Homo sapiens: one gene and its partner. The protein of the gene in region 2 purifies or fractionates together with the protein of the main gene of each other region. This does not show direct contact. Each region holds a gene or a part of one and is shown on either strand. Other genes may lie near its edges.

Region 1 (7,000 bases), on a different chromosome or scaffold from region 2:
GTTTTCCTGCTCTCATCATGGATTTCCCCTCACCATCATGTTGGGGCTTCCTTTGCTTCTGTCCTGTTGGATCCATTGTTTCTTATACCCCTATCTCCTTTCCTGCTTTGCTCCCTCATTTTAGGGGAACATGCCCTTCAGCAATTTCCTGAGAAAAGGATTGTTAATGAGAGATAAATTGTTTTGTGACTTTGAATATCTGAAAGTGCCATTGTTCTACCCTAAAACATATTCAACCATTTAACTGGTATATAATTGTTGGAGGTAATTTTCTCTCAGAATTTTGAAGGCATTGTTCCATTGCCTTGTAGTTATTGTTGAAGTCTAAAGCCATTTTTATTCCTCATTCTTAGTACATGACCTGGTTTTTCTCTGTGGAAACTTTCTGAATGTCATCTCTGTTGTACTGAAATGTTATAATCATGGTAGGCCTTGGTAGGAATCAGTTTTCATTAATTCTGCCAGTTATTAGATGAGCTTTTTTAATGGGAAACTTATGTCCTACATTTCTGAAGGATTTTCATGAATCGTTCTATGGTGATATCCTTCGTTTTCTGTATTCTGTCTTTCTGGAATTGTTCATGTTGTATGTCCTGCACTGATTTTCCTATTCTCTTTTAAAATCTTATTGTTTATAGATAAAAGTTTCTCGTATCTTTCTACAGATATGAATGATATATTTCTGTTTTTAGATTTTGAAGTTTTCTCTTCCCCCTATATGGTATGCTTCCTTCACGTTCCTTTTATTGCTTCATTTTGATCTGCATCTTTGCTGTTAGTGATTTTCCTCAAGTATCTGATGTCCTTGGGCCCTCATTTAAGAGTGAAGGTACAAGAAACAGATCAGAAGGTCTGAATTTGTGGGTGGGGCATATTGGGTTTGGATTTCACAATATCTGGTGTGGTTGGCCCATTTGATTAGGGAGTCTCAATGTCAGTATCTTTAGCCAATGAATTTTTGATGACTTTCCATTTATGTAATGAATTTAACAAGCACTTAACAATGTGCTAGGCACTGTTCCTGCTGACATGTAGCCTTCATGGAGTTGACATTTTAGTATTTTTAAGTCTTTTCCCTTGGGCTCAGTAGATTTTACTGAAAAGCTCCCCAGTCACCATCATTTTGGGGTCTCAGTAGAAGATACCTTGGAGTCTCAGTATTTAATATTTCATTGAGTCTGTGTATCCATTTTCATAATCTCCTGTCTTCCTTTGATACTCTGTACTTTTTCCTCCAAGTGTGCTTGGAATCTCCTGGTCTGGAGACTCTTTAGTTTGTCCTCTCCAAAGAATAAACCTGTCTTCTTTGTCATGAGGTGGGAGAGGGGAGGTGAGAGAGGGGAGGTGGGAGAGGGGAGCGGATCTAGAGTTTCTGAATGCTTTTAGGGCAGTTTGTTTGTTTTTAGCCCTACCATTCATGAGACACACTGGGTGTAAATCACATTGTTTCTATGCTGTTCTCACTCCTGATTTAGGATCTGTTTTCTCTACTGTTTTAACAAAATGTTTATATTCCTCCACCAGCTTTCCAGCTTCCAAACTTTTGTTACTGTTTCCTCTCCCTTTCTGTGTGTCGTTGGGAGCTTATGCCTTTAAAAAAAAATCCTTTTAGTGTGATTTTATTAGTAGTAGGGAATTAGCAGAAAACAAAAGTATATATTTTAGTCCGCCTCATTTCATGTGTTTTGCCCTTGGCTGTATCTGACTAGTTCCAGAGATCTTCCATCCTCCACTCTTGGGTTTTATGTTATCTATATCAATGCTAGTGGAAAAAAAGTAACTCCGGTTATTTAGAATGCCTTATTTACATCGTATTCATGGATGGATCGGGGCGGGTTGGCAGCCTGTATAAGCTGAGAAGTTAAAACATTTCAAACTTGATGATAAAGCCATCCTGAAGATATAGCCAGACAGAACCCTAAAGCTGTCCAGCTTCTCAATCTTGACTATCCCATAAATGAGCATTCTCCCTCAGTCTGGTGAAGAGGTAAACTATCCCTGAGCTTTTTGTGTAACACATTACATCCCTAGAGCTAAAAATGACCCCATCAGTAGTGTTTGTCTTGAAGGAGAAGCTAATTTAATAATTACAATAGTTGATTTAAAACAGTGGTCCCCAACCTTTTTGGCACCAGGGACCAGTTTCGTGGCAGATAGACAATTTTTCCACAGATGGGAAGGGGGTACATTTCAGGATGAAACTGTTCCACCTCAGATCGTCAGGCATTAAGAGTCTCATAAAGAGCACAGAACCTAGATCCATCACATGTACAGTTCACAATAGGGTTCATGCTCCTATGAGAATCTAATGCCGTTACAGGCGGAGTTTAGGCGGTAATGCTCACTCACCCACCCACCCACTGCTCACCCTCTGCTGTGCGGCCTGATTCCTAACAGGCCACAGACTGGTTGTTTGGGAGACCCCTGGTTTAAAAGCTTGTTCTTAATGCCTTAATGGAGCATGGGAAGGAAATTTTAGACTTCCTGTCTTTTGGATACTTGCTGAGGAACTGGACTTGAGACCAACAATAAAGGAATAGGTAATGACACCTAATTGGTGACTGGACCTGAATACACAATGTTTGCTATGACCTACAGATGACAGAAAGTTGGAAGGTTTTATATTTGACTCCCGTTTCTTTGGCCATTTACTGCTAATAGTCTCATCTGCAAAATGAGGGGTTGGACTAGATGATCTCTACTTCCCAGCCTAGTTGAGTAGATTACCAACAGCTAAGTTTACACTGCTGTGCCTAGTTTTCTTCTTTTGAAATGATTCTTGTTTAGTCAACTTTGCAAAATTCCTTTCTTTTTGACATATCTGTTTATATTTACATTTCCAGTTTTACTGGTTACTTGAGTTTAACATTAGCCAGCTTCCATTATCCTAATAAACAGTAAGAATTCTGTCACTGAATATTTTATCTGCCAGGTTTGTTCTTACCACTTCCTTTAATGACTCCTTAATTATTCCATCTTCTTATTAAATAGTGGGGTTTCTAGTTTGAGAGGGAAATGATTTGCTCTGTGAATGTGTGTACACTGTATATGTGTGTGTATATATATATATATAAAACATACATACATTTTTGTATGCATAAATATATATAATTTTTAAAAATCTGTTTAGGGCTTCAAGCAGCAAGCTCTTACAGTATCCACAGATCCTGAGCATCGTTTTGAGCTTGCTCTTCAGCTTGGAGAGTTAAAAATTGCATACCAGTTAGCAGTGGAAGCAGAGGTATGTACTAATTCATGATTTTTCATAACTGATGGAAAAGTCAGTAGGTACTTCTATGTGTTTGGTGTAATGTTTTGTTATTAAAGTTTTCCCAAATGCAAATTAGTGGCTCATTTTGTTGAAGTTATTGTCTCTCTCTTATCTTTTTAAAAGATGTATTATGTTAAACTTTGCATAAGTTAAATTGATTACATTGGAGATATTCTTAGCACTCTAATTTGTTTTAAGAAAAATTGTTTTCATATCTTATGTGAGCTCTATTTTGCAAGATAAGAAAAGATGTAAAATAGTATGTAAACTAGTCTGGAAAGCCTAAGAGTACAGACATAGCAGTTATTTGCCAATGTCTGAAACTAACTAAAAATATGTTGGTTTTGAAAGACAGCCCAACCCCCTCATCTTTTGGTGTTGAATAGAGCAGGCAGTCAGAGAAGGACAGTGCTGCCTTGGTGGCACTCACCTTCAGCAGCAGATGCTCTTAGCACATCTGGTCTAAATGTTTGAGCTAAATGAGCTGTTCAGGGAGGCTCAAGTGGGAGAAATGTTAATACCATTTTTGTAATGATATTTTTATAGATCTTTGTATATTGAGGCTCCCAATTGTTTCAGACTGGCATTTACTGGTAAATTAATTTCAGATGTGCAAAATAAATTTTAGCTACGTTAAGATCATCTAAACATGCAGCATTTTGAGTTCTGAAAAGCTACAAGTGAGACATAATATTATTGTGAAATATTTAAAGACGTAGTTTTGTATGCTTTCAAAAAAGTGATATTAAATCACTTGTTAAAATAATTGCAGTCTAATTGCCTTAAAACTCCAGTGAGATGGTTTTACTTTCCCTGTGTAATTATAAGATAAAAGTATAATGGGTTGACGATAATTATTTGCACATCATTAAAATTGATTTGTGTTTAAATTCATTTTGTATACATTAATAATTTCCATTTCCTCACTGTACATTTTGCAATGCCATTCTTATTTTGATAGAGCCAACTTAACAAACACAGCTCTTTTTATAAACATTGTCTGCACAGTTAACAGAATAATGTTGGAAATGTAAATGCTTATTTCTAAAGATATTTTAACTTGGAAACTCTTTTCTTACAGTCAGAACAGAAGTGGAAACAACTTGCTGAACTTGCCATTAGTAAATGTCAGTTTGGCCTAGCCCAGGAGTGCCTGCATCATGCACAGGATTATGGGGGCCTGCTGCTTTTGGCCACTGCCTCTGGAAATGCTAATATGGTGAACAAGCTAGCAGAGGGTGCGGAGAGAGATGGCAAAAATAATGTGGCATTCATGAGCTACTTTTTACAGGGCAAGTGAGTATTAATTTAAAAGATTAATTAATTCTACACTGAGGATGGTTTTTGGAGAGGGAAGTGAAGAATGAACCCTGGAGAGAACTGATGAATGGCCAAATGGTGTTGAATAGACGGGGCAGTCAGAACAGGACAGTGCTGCCTTGGTGGCACTCACCTTCAGCAAGGGATGCCCTTAGCACATCTATCTAAATGTTTGAGCTAAATGAGCTGTTCAGGGAGGCTCAAGTGGGAGAAATGTTAAACACCTTCTTCAACAGCCCTGCCAGTTAATGGTGGAAGCATTTTATTTTATGATTGCAGGAGGCTATTGAGCTGCTCTAGTAGGTACCTGAAGGGCAGGTGATTTTACCCAAATTGGATAACTTTGATCCATTTATGGCAAGAACAAAAGGGGATAAGTATGCCACTTACTTGTAGATTTGAGCCCACTATAAAGCATAAAGATGTCTCATATTTTTAAGTCTAACCGAGTTAGCATAAACCAAATCATTTGGACATTAGTTGGCAGTATTATGAAATAAAACACAAAAGTATTCTTTCCTTTTTTTTTTTTTTTTTTTGAGATGGAATCTCACTCTGTTGCCCAGGCTGGAGTGCAGTGGCATGATCTCGGCTAATTGCAGCCTCTGTCTCCCTCGTTCAAGCCCTTCTCCTGCCTTAGCCTCCCAAGTAGCTGGGATTACAGGCATGCGCCACCACACCCGGCTTGTGTTTTTAATAGAGATGGGGTCTCACCATGTTGGCCAGGCTGGTCTCAAACTCCTGACCTCAAATGATCCGCCTGCCTCGTCCTCCCAAAGTGCTGGGATTATAGGTGTGAGCCACCACGCCCAGCCCGAAAGTATTCTTTAACCTTCTCCTACATACTGATTTTTTTTTTTTTTTACAATCCCATACTTCGCCATATAACTTTGAACGTGCACCCCATTGTATGTATGTGAATGTATTTATGAATTTATATACCTGTAAGAATAGACCCTATTCCTTATCCATAATTCAAAAATCCAAAAATATTCTGAAAACAGTTATAACTGTTTTGATGGCAAGACCTGAGCTGAACTGCTTTAGTATTTTTAGTTGCTTTTATACCAACTTGGTACATTTTTATTGCATTTAACATTCCTATGTAAGTTATTGCAGTATTAATGTTTGTGGCTTTTTCATGCTGAGGATGTAAGGTAATACATAGTATACATACTGTATCACCTTTCGAAAATCCAAAAAATCCTGAATTCTGAAACATATTGTCCACATCATAAAACTTGCACAGAAAAAAAATGAAATTAAAATAGAAGAAAAAATAAGACACCATGGTATTCTGCTGGGCACCACTGGCTTGTCTGGCCCTTCCCATGTTGGAGACACTGCCCTAGATATTTGTCTTGTGGAACTGAATTTCTGCTGGCATATATCCTTATGCCTTTAAAATTTGCTAATCTAACCTGCCTTAACTCCTCTTGAAAAGCCCCTTTAGGTTCTTAGGAATTATAATAATTAAGTTAAGTAGATTCAAAGTAGTCAGGAAAGCTGTCTTATCCCTCATACCCTTGCAGTGTGTTGATTAACAACCATTAAAAGACAAGTGACAGAAATGAGATATATGTGTGAAGATTGGGGAGATTTTTGGCTTTGTAACACTAAATTTACTTTGTGTTAAGTACCCATTATTATAGTGTTTATTCTTGGTAACAGTACCTCTCCTTTTTAATGTTTAGGGTTGATGCCTGCCTAGAGCTCTTAATTAGAACTGGACGGCTGCCAGAAGCTGCCTTCTTGGCCCGAACTTACTTACCCAGTCAGGTTTCAAGGTACAGACTTTTAATTTTAGGAAGAAATGTTTCCAATAAAAAGAGAGCACATTTACTTAGTCTCTCTTTGGTTCCATGATGTCTATAATAGGGTAGTGAAACTCTGGAGAGAGAATCTCTCAAAAGTCAATCAGAAAGCAGCAGAATCCCTTGCTGACCCAACAGAGTATGAAAACCTGTTCCCTGGATTAAAAGAAGCCTTTGTTGTTGAAGAATGGGTGAAGGAAACACATGCTGATCTGTGGCCAGCCAAACAATACCCACTTGTCACGGTGAGTGGCCAGGATGTCAAGCTTCATTTATTGTAACTACAGGGTGGAAGTACATTCAGGACTTCAGATTTTGAACTGCTGTCTTCTTTTAAAATTAAGAGCTGATATCTGGGATTTAGGCCAAGTTCATAGGTAAATTATGATTTCAGAATATCTCATTTCATCATTGCTTTATTCTCTGATAGCCAAATGAAGAGAGAAATGTCATGGAAGAGGGAAAAGACTTTCAGCCCTCAAGATCTACAGCTCAACAGGTCAGTAGAGCACTTCATGTGATAAATTTGGCTGAGATGGTTCACTTTTTTTTTTTTTCTTTTGAGACAGAGTTTCGCTCCATTGCCCTGGCTGGA
Region 2 (9,331 bases):
CAGCCCCAGTGCGGGATCCACTGGGTGAAGCCAGCTGGGCTCCTGAGTCTGGTGGGGACGTGGGGAACCTTTGTGTCTAGCTCAGGGACTGTAAATACACCAGTCAGCACTCTGTATCTAGCTCAAGGTTTGCAAACACACCAATCAGCGCCCTGTGTCTAGCTCAAGGTTTGTGAATGCACCAATCCACACTCTGTATCTAGCTACTCTGGTGGGGACTTGGAGAACCTTTGTGTCCACACTCTGTATCTAGCTAATCTGGTGGGGAGGTGGAGAACCTTTGTGTCTAGCTCAGGGATTGTAAACGCACAAATCAGCGCCCTGTCAAAACAGACCACTGGGCTCTACCAGTCAGCAGGATGTGGGTCGGGCCGGATAAGAGAATAAAAGCAGGCTGCCCAGCCAGCAGTGGCAACCCTCTCAGGTCCGCTTCCACATTGTGGAAGCTTTGTCCTTTCGCTCTTTGCAATAAATCTTGTTGCTGCTCACTCTTTGGGTCCACACTGCCTTTATGAGCTGTAACACTCACCGCGAAGGTCCACGGCTTCACTCCTGAGCCAGCGAGACCACGAACCCCACCAGAAGGAAGAAACTCCGAACATGAGAAGGAACAAACTCCAGACACGCCACCTTTAAGAACTGTAACACTCACCGCGAGGGTCCGCGGCTTCATTCTTGAAGTCAGTGAGACCAAGAACCCACCAATTCCGGACACAATACTGCTGCTGATCTGACAGGAGACAGAACTCAGATGGTAATGCTCGCGTGCCCACTGCCCACAGCCTCCTGCTGTGCCATCCTGTTCCTAGAGGCCACGAACCAGTACCAGTCTGCAGCCTAGGGGTTGGGGACACCTGACTTAACATAATGTCCTCTAGGTCCTAACATGATATTAAAGCTCTAGGGTCTACCCTATACAATCACTGAGGAAGCCCTGTCCAATCAGATTGGGAGGAGAGTGATGAAATATTTCATTTGGAAGATAACCCTCAATATATTACCAGGTGGCATTTTCATAAATAAGCAGTGAATACTGAACACCTTCTTGGAGGACTATGGGCTAGCATAAGAATCCATACCCTGCATTGGTATAATTTTTGTATCAGATGCCTCAAACTTTATTAAACTACTTCCAGGCAGGGTCATAGGAAAATCTTCTCAGTGGGTTGGTTTCTCCAATTACATTTTTTTTTTTTTTTTTTTTTTGAGACAGAGTCTCGCTATGTCACCCAGGCTGCATTGCAGTGGCACAATCTTGGCTCACTGCAACCTCCGCCTCCCAGGTTCAACCAATTCTCCTGCCTCAGCCTCCCAAGTAGCTGGGACTACAGGCGCCCGCTACCACACCCAGCTAATTGTTTTTGTATTTTTAGTAGAGATGGGGTTTCACTATGTTGGCCAGGCTGGTCTTGAACTCCTGACCTTGTGATCCACCCACCTCGGCTTCCCAAAGTGCTGGGATTACAGGTGTGAGCCACTGTGCCCAGCCTCCAATTTCTTTTATTTTCTTATAATAATCTCAAATTTTGCCAACTCTGGGAATAGCTCCAATAGGGTTTATTTATTTATTCTTAGGAAGAAAGTTGTTACCCTCGAGTTAATTCAATAAAAAATAATTAAGAAAATATTGAAGAAAAAATTTCTTTAACTAGCAATTACAAACTAATAAATACAGCAAAGATCCAGATAAACCAAAAATTGTGTTAGCAGGTTGGTTAAATGAGTGCAGTTAACTGGGAATAATTTTTTACAAGTGTTTTTTTATTTCGTTTTGTTTTGTTTTTGAGACAGAGTGTCGCTCTTGTTACCCAGGCTGGAGTGCAATGGCGTGTTCTCAGCTCACTGCAACCTTCGCCTCCCAGGTTCAAATGATTCGTCTGCCTCAACCTCTCGAATAGCTGGGATTACAGGCGCCCACCACCATGCCTGGCTAATTTTTGTGTTTTTAGTAGAGATGGGGTTTCACCATGTTGGCCAGGCTGGTCTCAAACTCCTGACCTCAGGTGATCCACCTACCTCGGCCTCCCAAAGTGCTGGACTTATAGGCATGAGCCACCTTGCCTGGCCTACAGGTGTGTTTTGAGCTACGGTTTCTGTATAAAATTATGTAGCCTCCCTCATATTTTCATTTAAGAATCATTTCAAATAATTTTCAAACCAAATCTTTCATGTTCTCTTCTGCTTATTGTTTTACTCTACAATGCCTAGAAATTTTCTTGATGCAAAGTGAGTACTTGTTTGTTTAATAAAGAAGGAGAAGAAGAAATGACTCATTACATGTTTCTGAACAAGGCACTTAACTTAGCAAGAACCTTATTTCTCACTCTCCTTTGGTACATTTAATATTAAGCATAAATTATGCACACAGATTCACAGGAAAGGCTAGCAGTTCAGAATCAAATAGGACATTTTTTGATTCAAGCCTCTGCTGCTCTAAAGAATAGCAACAAGACATACTTGCTAAGGGTAACTAGGATATTTTTCAATGAACATCAGTTGAGCAAATAAATGGCTCTTGCCCTAGTAGAGAAAGATGACTATTTTTGAATGAGTGTCTTGAAAGCACTTTCCCCAAAGTTATTGAATACCTATTACATCCCATTTACTGTCCTAGGTGATGGTCTCTGAAAGAGGGTTCTGAGTAAGGACCTTTATTGTTAAATATGAATAGTATTATATAATTTATCAATGATGATATTTTTCTACACCCAAACAGGGATCTTAAGTATGAGATTCTTTCCCTAAATATAAATGATTCCCCTTTATCAGGAATCAGTTATGATTCAGCTATCCAGAGAATTCATTCAAGCCTCAGAGGCTTAACTTTTTATTGTTGTTCTGCCTCTGATTCGCTATTTCACTTTGAGAACTATGCAAAGTTAACTGACTCAGCATTACAGCCCAAATCCACCTGCAGGCTTTTAGATGAGACAAAGCCATAATTTCACGCTGTTAAATATGTTAAGTAAACAAAATAACCAAGATGCCTAAACTAGAGAACAAAGATCTTCAGGGAAAAATATTATTCCTTTTTCTCTGAAGATGTAAATCTAAGACAAAATGCAGATGCTTTTTTTTTTGTAAATGTCCACTATCTGAAGGTTAGATCATAAACTAACAATAAAATGCAGAAAGAGAAAGGAATAAAAATTCCATTCTGTAGAGCTTGCATTTGAGGTACTGATAAAACTTTTAGGTGGAAATGTTCAATAGGTAAGTGAAAATATAGATCTGGAGCTCAGACTAGAGATTTTGGCAGATAATTAGTTTAGAATGGCAGGTTGGATGGTTATTAACATCCAAGGAAAAAGGAGAGCGTGAAGTCTGCAAGGTGTGGTGGGGAGCAAGTAGCTGGCCATTCCATCTGGTGGGTCCATCATACCTGAGGCATGGGGGATACTTCTGAAGTTCTTCTGAGTGGATAGTGCCCAGAAGCCACGTAAGAGCACTGGATTCTGATTATGAAGGGCAAAAAATAATTTCTTAAAAAGTCAACCATGGGCCAGGTACGGTGGCTCATGCCTGTAATCCCAGCACTTTGAGAGGCTGAGGAAGGCGGATCACGAGGTCGAGAGGTAGAGGCTATCCTGGCCAACATGGTGAAACCCCACCTCTACTAAAAATTCAAAAATGAGCTGGGTGTGTCGGCGCGTGCCTGTAATCCCAGCTACGTGGGATGCTGAGGCAGGAGAATCACTTCAACCCGGGAGGCAGAGGTTGCAGTGAGCCAAGATCGAACCACTGCACTCTAGCCTGGGAAACAGAGTGAGACTACATCTCAAAAAAAAAAGTCAGTATGAGAGAGGAGAACAGCTTTCTCCAATTAGAATGCAAGCTCTTTTGGGCATAGCCATCATCTCTTCCATTTCTTGTTATGCCCACACAATGTGCATTCTTAAATAACATTGACTAACCCTTCCACAACAGCCCAAATTCATTATGGGGAAGAGCATAATGACTCCAACAATACTAAATAGAGCACTTATATAGCATCTACATACCACTCTTAGAGTCCAATGTGATTCCTGGCATAAAGACACTCAAGAATCATTTTTATAAGCTTTAATAAGCTTACCACAAAGCCCTAACTAAACACTTAGATTACAGCAAACTACAGCAACCAAATTCGGGCTTAGAATTTATCACTGTTTATAGGCTTACATATATGAGTCATCATCATCAGTTAGCAAATTATACTGTTAATTATAGCTGATGAATTCAATGTAAAATGAGATGGTCAGATAGAACTAAGTATTTCTCACATTATTTTGTGGCCAGAGCTTATACCTGCATTTCATCTTGGTGTATACTAGGATTGTTGTTTTTTACTTGTAACAGTGAAGAAAGTGTATATTGTTATCCAGTAACAGAAAACACTATATATCTGCTTGAAATAATCGTTAAAACTACCAAAGGTGTGACCAACAACCCAAACTCTAGAGAAAGTGAGGCAAGCTAAATATATTGTTTTAGTATTTCAGATACCTAGGACATCAAATTCCTAAAATCTAGCACATCGAATGCCATACATTTCTCAAGTGCTATGACCTAGTTTTTTAAGATTATGAGAAACATTCTGAGAATCTAAAGTTATCACTTTGTTGCAATTTCAAATTTCCCAAATTCATATATGAGGTTTTCAAAGCCACAGAATGGCTTAACAAGAGACAAAGATGAACTATGTGCAAAGACTCAGACATGGCTTAAAAGGGTATCTATGAATATTAAGGGGGAATAAGTCTTCCCTCTCAAGCTTCGCAATTCCTTCAGCACAGAAGTCCTCAAAAATGGAGAGTGGTCTTGCTGTTTTTTCCTTTAAAAACTCGATCTAGGTTATTCAATTTTCTTGGTACGTGCACCATAAAGTGTAACACAATTTTAAAAAAATCTTATAAAGAAAAAAATACTAAGAAAGATAAGTCTCTAGTACCTCGCCGATAATAGTTTATTAAAAAAAATGCACAATCTTATTAGATGAAAATAACAGGAGGCATGTTAGACATTAACTGTAAGAACAAGAAAGCGAAGTAAGGCATTTTGTCTTTTGTAAAATCACAATAAAAAATTCTTAACAATACCTAGATGATGTAAAAAAAGAGTCAAAAATGTGGTTCTACCAAAAAGCAAAATTACCTAGCAAGAAAACAGCCAGCTATATACTTTTTACCACCACGCATCTCGAGAGAACTGTTACCCATCTTTTTCTTTAGGAACCATCTTATAACAATTTCATGCTTGATCAAAAATACAACATCAAATAAATTACTGTTGTGAAGACCAAAATTCCATTACTAATATAATCCTTTATAATCATTTTAAAAAAATAAAAACAATTTAGAGTCCTATGAAACAGACATCAATGTTCCATACCTGTTGATAACTAAGGGACTCAAGGTAATAGAGATTATAATTCTAACAAAATCAAGATATCAAGTTCAACTTGAAAATAGCATGCCTACCAGAATAAACACTGGAGAATTAATTTACTAATACAATTACATTTTCCATTTTAGAAGATGATATATCTGAATTCCTAAATTTCCAAAGTGCTAGCTATCCAAAGAAGCATCAACTAATGCCTTCATTTTCCCTAATTCAAAAAGACACTTGGGGTTATTTTATTGACTTACATTCCACAGTAAAATCATTTTTTCTGATAAGAGGCCAGGATCTCCTGAGTGTGTCAGACAGCATGCTAATGCACTGGCACCCTCTGCCTGGAGCAACAATTATAAGGCATGAACTACAAGGATCTTTTCCCTAAGGAGGAAGCTGAAGCCTCCAGAATGATGTCAATACTTAACTGCATTTTGCTAGACGAGATTAACTCCTTATATAGCTCCTTATATCTTATATTAGCTACATAAAAATGTCTCCCTAACTTTCTCACCAGAAAAATAAAATATGATGATAAAAGCCATTGTACTGAGTTTTATGATGTTTTTTGGCTACAGGTATGGTACCTGACCATGTCATGCAAATGGAAGATAGGCCCATGAAGTAAGAGCAATGTTTTGAAAGGACATAAATAAAATACTGGTCCTTATGATCTTACCTCCTTTGAACTTTACTAATTTCATATTTTTTTAAAAGAAAACAAGATAGTAAAAAGTACTAACTATTAAGTCGTCACCTATTATGGTACCTTGGCAGCTTTATTAACCTTGTCTTCATTTTCTCTCTTATACACAAAAACTGAAGCAAATTTGCCATCTTGCAGTACAGCGGGATAAACAGCAAGTCCAGAGGGTAAGGTAAATGGTGGTTCTCTCAGTGTATAGCTCTTTAAAGCACTGTTCTCTGATCCCATCCCTTATGCAGTGAGGCAGTACTGCCACTCTTCCTCAAAGCCAAGCAGATCTAAAAGAAAACAGAAAACAATTTCAAACATTAAATCCCTATCTGCAACATCAACAAGAGATATCCAGACATAGCCACCCCAAACTACTAGTTTCTTTGATCCTCATAACTAGGACATTTGACAGTAAAAATGGTAAACGCTCTGCAAGTTACCAGCAATGGTTGTTAATTAACAACTAACAGCTCTAGAGAAAATGCACATTACTAAATAGTCACAGGTAGTTACTGTCCCTCCCCAAACTCCACCACATACAAACTTTCAGAGTGGAAAGGCAATCAAAAATAGAATAAGGTAATTCATACTTCCTAACTCACTTGTATATCCTCACTCACAAAGGAAAATGTTGTAAAAATATTACTCAAAAACAATAAAACTTCTGTATGTAGAAAATAACTTAAAATTATAAAGGAAAACAATACAAATTGGAGAATACTTATAATGAGGAAAATCATGGTTTTAATATTAATATGTTGAAAAACATTGTTAATATGATGAAAAACATATTAACAAATGAAGAGCTCATATAAACCAAGTAAAACACTAAAACACCAGTACAATAATGGGAAAGAAAACAGACAACTCATTGAAGAAACACAAATGACGATAAACATAAGAAAAAGTACGATCGCACTACTCTTCAAAGCTATCCTAAGTAAAAAGGGGAAACCGCAAAACTGAATCTCAAATAATCTCAATTGCTAAAAAAAAACAAAAGCCCACACATACACAGAATTCAAATGCAACTATGACAAAATACTTCAGTGCTCACCTAGTGAAGGGGCACAGTTAGAGGGATCAAGGGAGAGGAAAGGATTATCATGATGTATGAGGAACTTTTGGGAGGATGGATATATTCATTATCTTGATGATGATGATGGTAACGGGTGATTATGTCAAAACATAAAACTGTACACTTTTTTCATTTATTCTGTATCAATTACGCCTCAAAGTTGTTTTGAAAAGAAATATATGTATACATACACACAGACTTGAAAAATATATGTTGAAGTATTAACAGAGGTTTCCAGTGGAAGGTCAGATTATAGGTAATTTTATACACACACACTTGCCTGCACCTTCCAAATCTTCTACAATATGAACAGCTTTCTTGACAACAGGGATACAAACTCACAGGGTGACAACAGGTAATGTGCAGTGCCCCAGCAGTACTGGCAGCCTGGCAGAGGGACCTACTGTGCGTGCATGGGACCTACTGTGAGAGGCTTGCATTCTGAAGACAGTGGCTATCACAGAGTTCCAACCAGGACTGCAGTTTCAGAACTGTCAGATCATGCCACTTATCGTGAGGAACCAAGAGCCTGAATAGTTTTGTGGAAATCTCCATATTTTTCAATGTTGAATCAAATGTTTTCTAAACCTATATAGGCCAAACAACGTATGTCTGAAAAATCTGTGGCAGTCAGTTTTCAGTGGTGGCTTTACCATAATATAAAAATTAGAAAATAGAGTTCTTACTAACTCTGGCAATGTAGAAAGCAAACTGCTACAAATACGGCCAATAATTCTATGTAGGCCTTTAAAAATTTGTTTAAAATCTGTATTCTTTGGACAAATATAAACTCAATAATCATTACACATTGACCCTCTACTTGGAATTTTTCCCCACTTCGGTGAAATTCCATACAACACCTTCTACACTGGGTATGTAATGCTGCTCAAAACACATGCCTAGAACAAAATTTAAAGTGCCTACCGATCCACAACCATCGTTATATAAGAAACACATGTATAAAGGCTAAAGCTATCTAAAATTGAAGATTTTCAAAATCTAAAAATGTTGCTGAGAATAAGAACTAAATCTGCTTTGTAACAAATTCACTGAATTCCTACCTACCTGGCAATGTATCTTTCTTAAAAATGACAGAGAAGCAAAAAACAGTACTAAAAGAAATGCCAAGTATGGCAACTATGGTAACATTCACCTTTCTACTGGGACTACAAATAAAAAGTTTATGTGGGACCATGGGTAAAAGCAACAATGCTAATCCCTCTGTTCTGGAGATAGAGTGCTGGCCAGATTGTCACAACCTCCTGCTGAGTAGGGAGGATTATGCTTAGCACTTGATCTTGCCACCTCTTCTTGGGCACAGTTAATGTTGGCAGGTACCTATCCTGGGCCAAAGGGCGGTTAATTCACAAATTAGCCATCAATTTCATGGCCTGAGTGAAGAGATAAACTGGCCAGATCATTGTCTCCCCCAGGAATTTGAACTAAGAACAATTTTTGCCTATTAGAAGCATAGCCGAAGGTAGAAGGATGCTATGAGGTGGAGGTGGAGCTACGGCAAACCAAAGCCACATGAAGTCAGAAACTTTCCAGAGGAAGTCAGTTGGTAGTAAAATTTTAAAAAGCAAACACTGGGACCGTAGCTTAGTCATACTTAGGGGGCACATTACTACTATCCATCTCAAGACTACCGGAAGCCCAGCCTCAAATCTAATTCCACCCAGATACCCTAACATCCCATTGACACCCTTACAACCAGCCCCCTTTTCCTCAGGTAACTTGAATGGGTCTATGTTCTTTGAAACTAATTGCCATTTCATAGGCAGAAAGCTCTACTTGGTCTCCAACTCCTGCCTGAAAAGCCAGTCAGACTGGAAGAGTGAGTTACAGAAGTGTTACTTTGAAAGTATCTGAAGCTAGTCTGACCGTCTCTCTCTCACCCACAAAACACAGCTTTCCAAAATCAACACACAATTAAGAGAAAAGCAGAGAATAAGGGACTGTATATTAATGAATATCTTCTTCGCAGGAAATCATGCTGTTTATTTAAGTGTTAATATTAATCCTCATGGGAGATAAGACTGCCACCAGGATTCAGGGTCAGTGCTCTGGCTGATGAATGGCAGTCACCAGAGGCAAGAGAAAGGAACATTTAATTTACTTAGCTATTTCTAAATAGCAAAATACTTCCTTGTGGGAACATTGGCCTTGCAATAGCTATT

Evidence for each region. The genes of interacting proteins can lie anywhere in the genome.
Region 1: the proteins of SCYL3 (region 2) and COPB2 purify together in Homo sapiens (affinity purification with mass spectrometry; 2 studies listed by BioGRID and IntAct, with this or other methods). This does not show direct contact.

What each region holds. Positions count from the first base shown.
Region 1 is NC_000003.12:139,358,648-139,365,647, reverse strand, and holds part of COPB2 (coatomer subunit beta'), read left to right. Parts: intron 1-3,130; coding exon 3,131-3,241; intron 3,242-4,352; coding exon 4,353-4,567; intron 4,568-6,285; coding exon 6,286-6,378; intron 6,379-6,469; coding exon 6,470-6,650; intron 6,651-6,835; coding exon 6,836-6,904; intron 6,905-7,000. UniProt on the Homo sapiens protein: The coatomer is a cytosolic protein complex that binds to dilysine motifs and reversibly associates with Golgi non-clathrin-coated vesicles, which further mediate biosynthetic protein transport from the ER, via the Golgi up to the trans Golgi network.
Region 2 is NC_000001.11:169,882,531-169,891,861, forward strand, and holds part of SCYL3 (protein-associating with the carboxyl-terminal domain of ezrin), read right to left. Parts: intron 6,361-9,331; 5' UTR 6,311-6,360; coding exon 6,146-6,310; exon of another isoform or gene 6,120-6,145; intron 1-6,119. UniProt on the Homo sapiens protein: May play a role in regulating cell adhesion/migration complexes in migrating cells.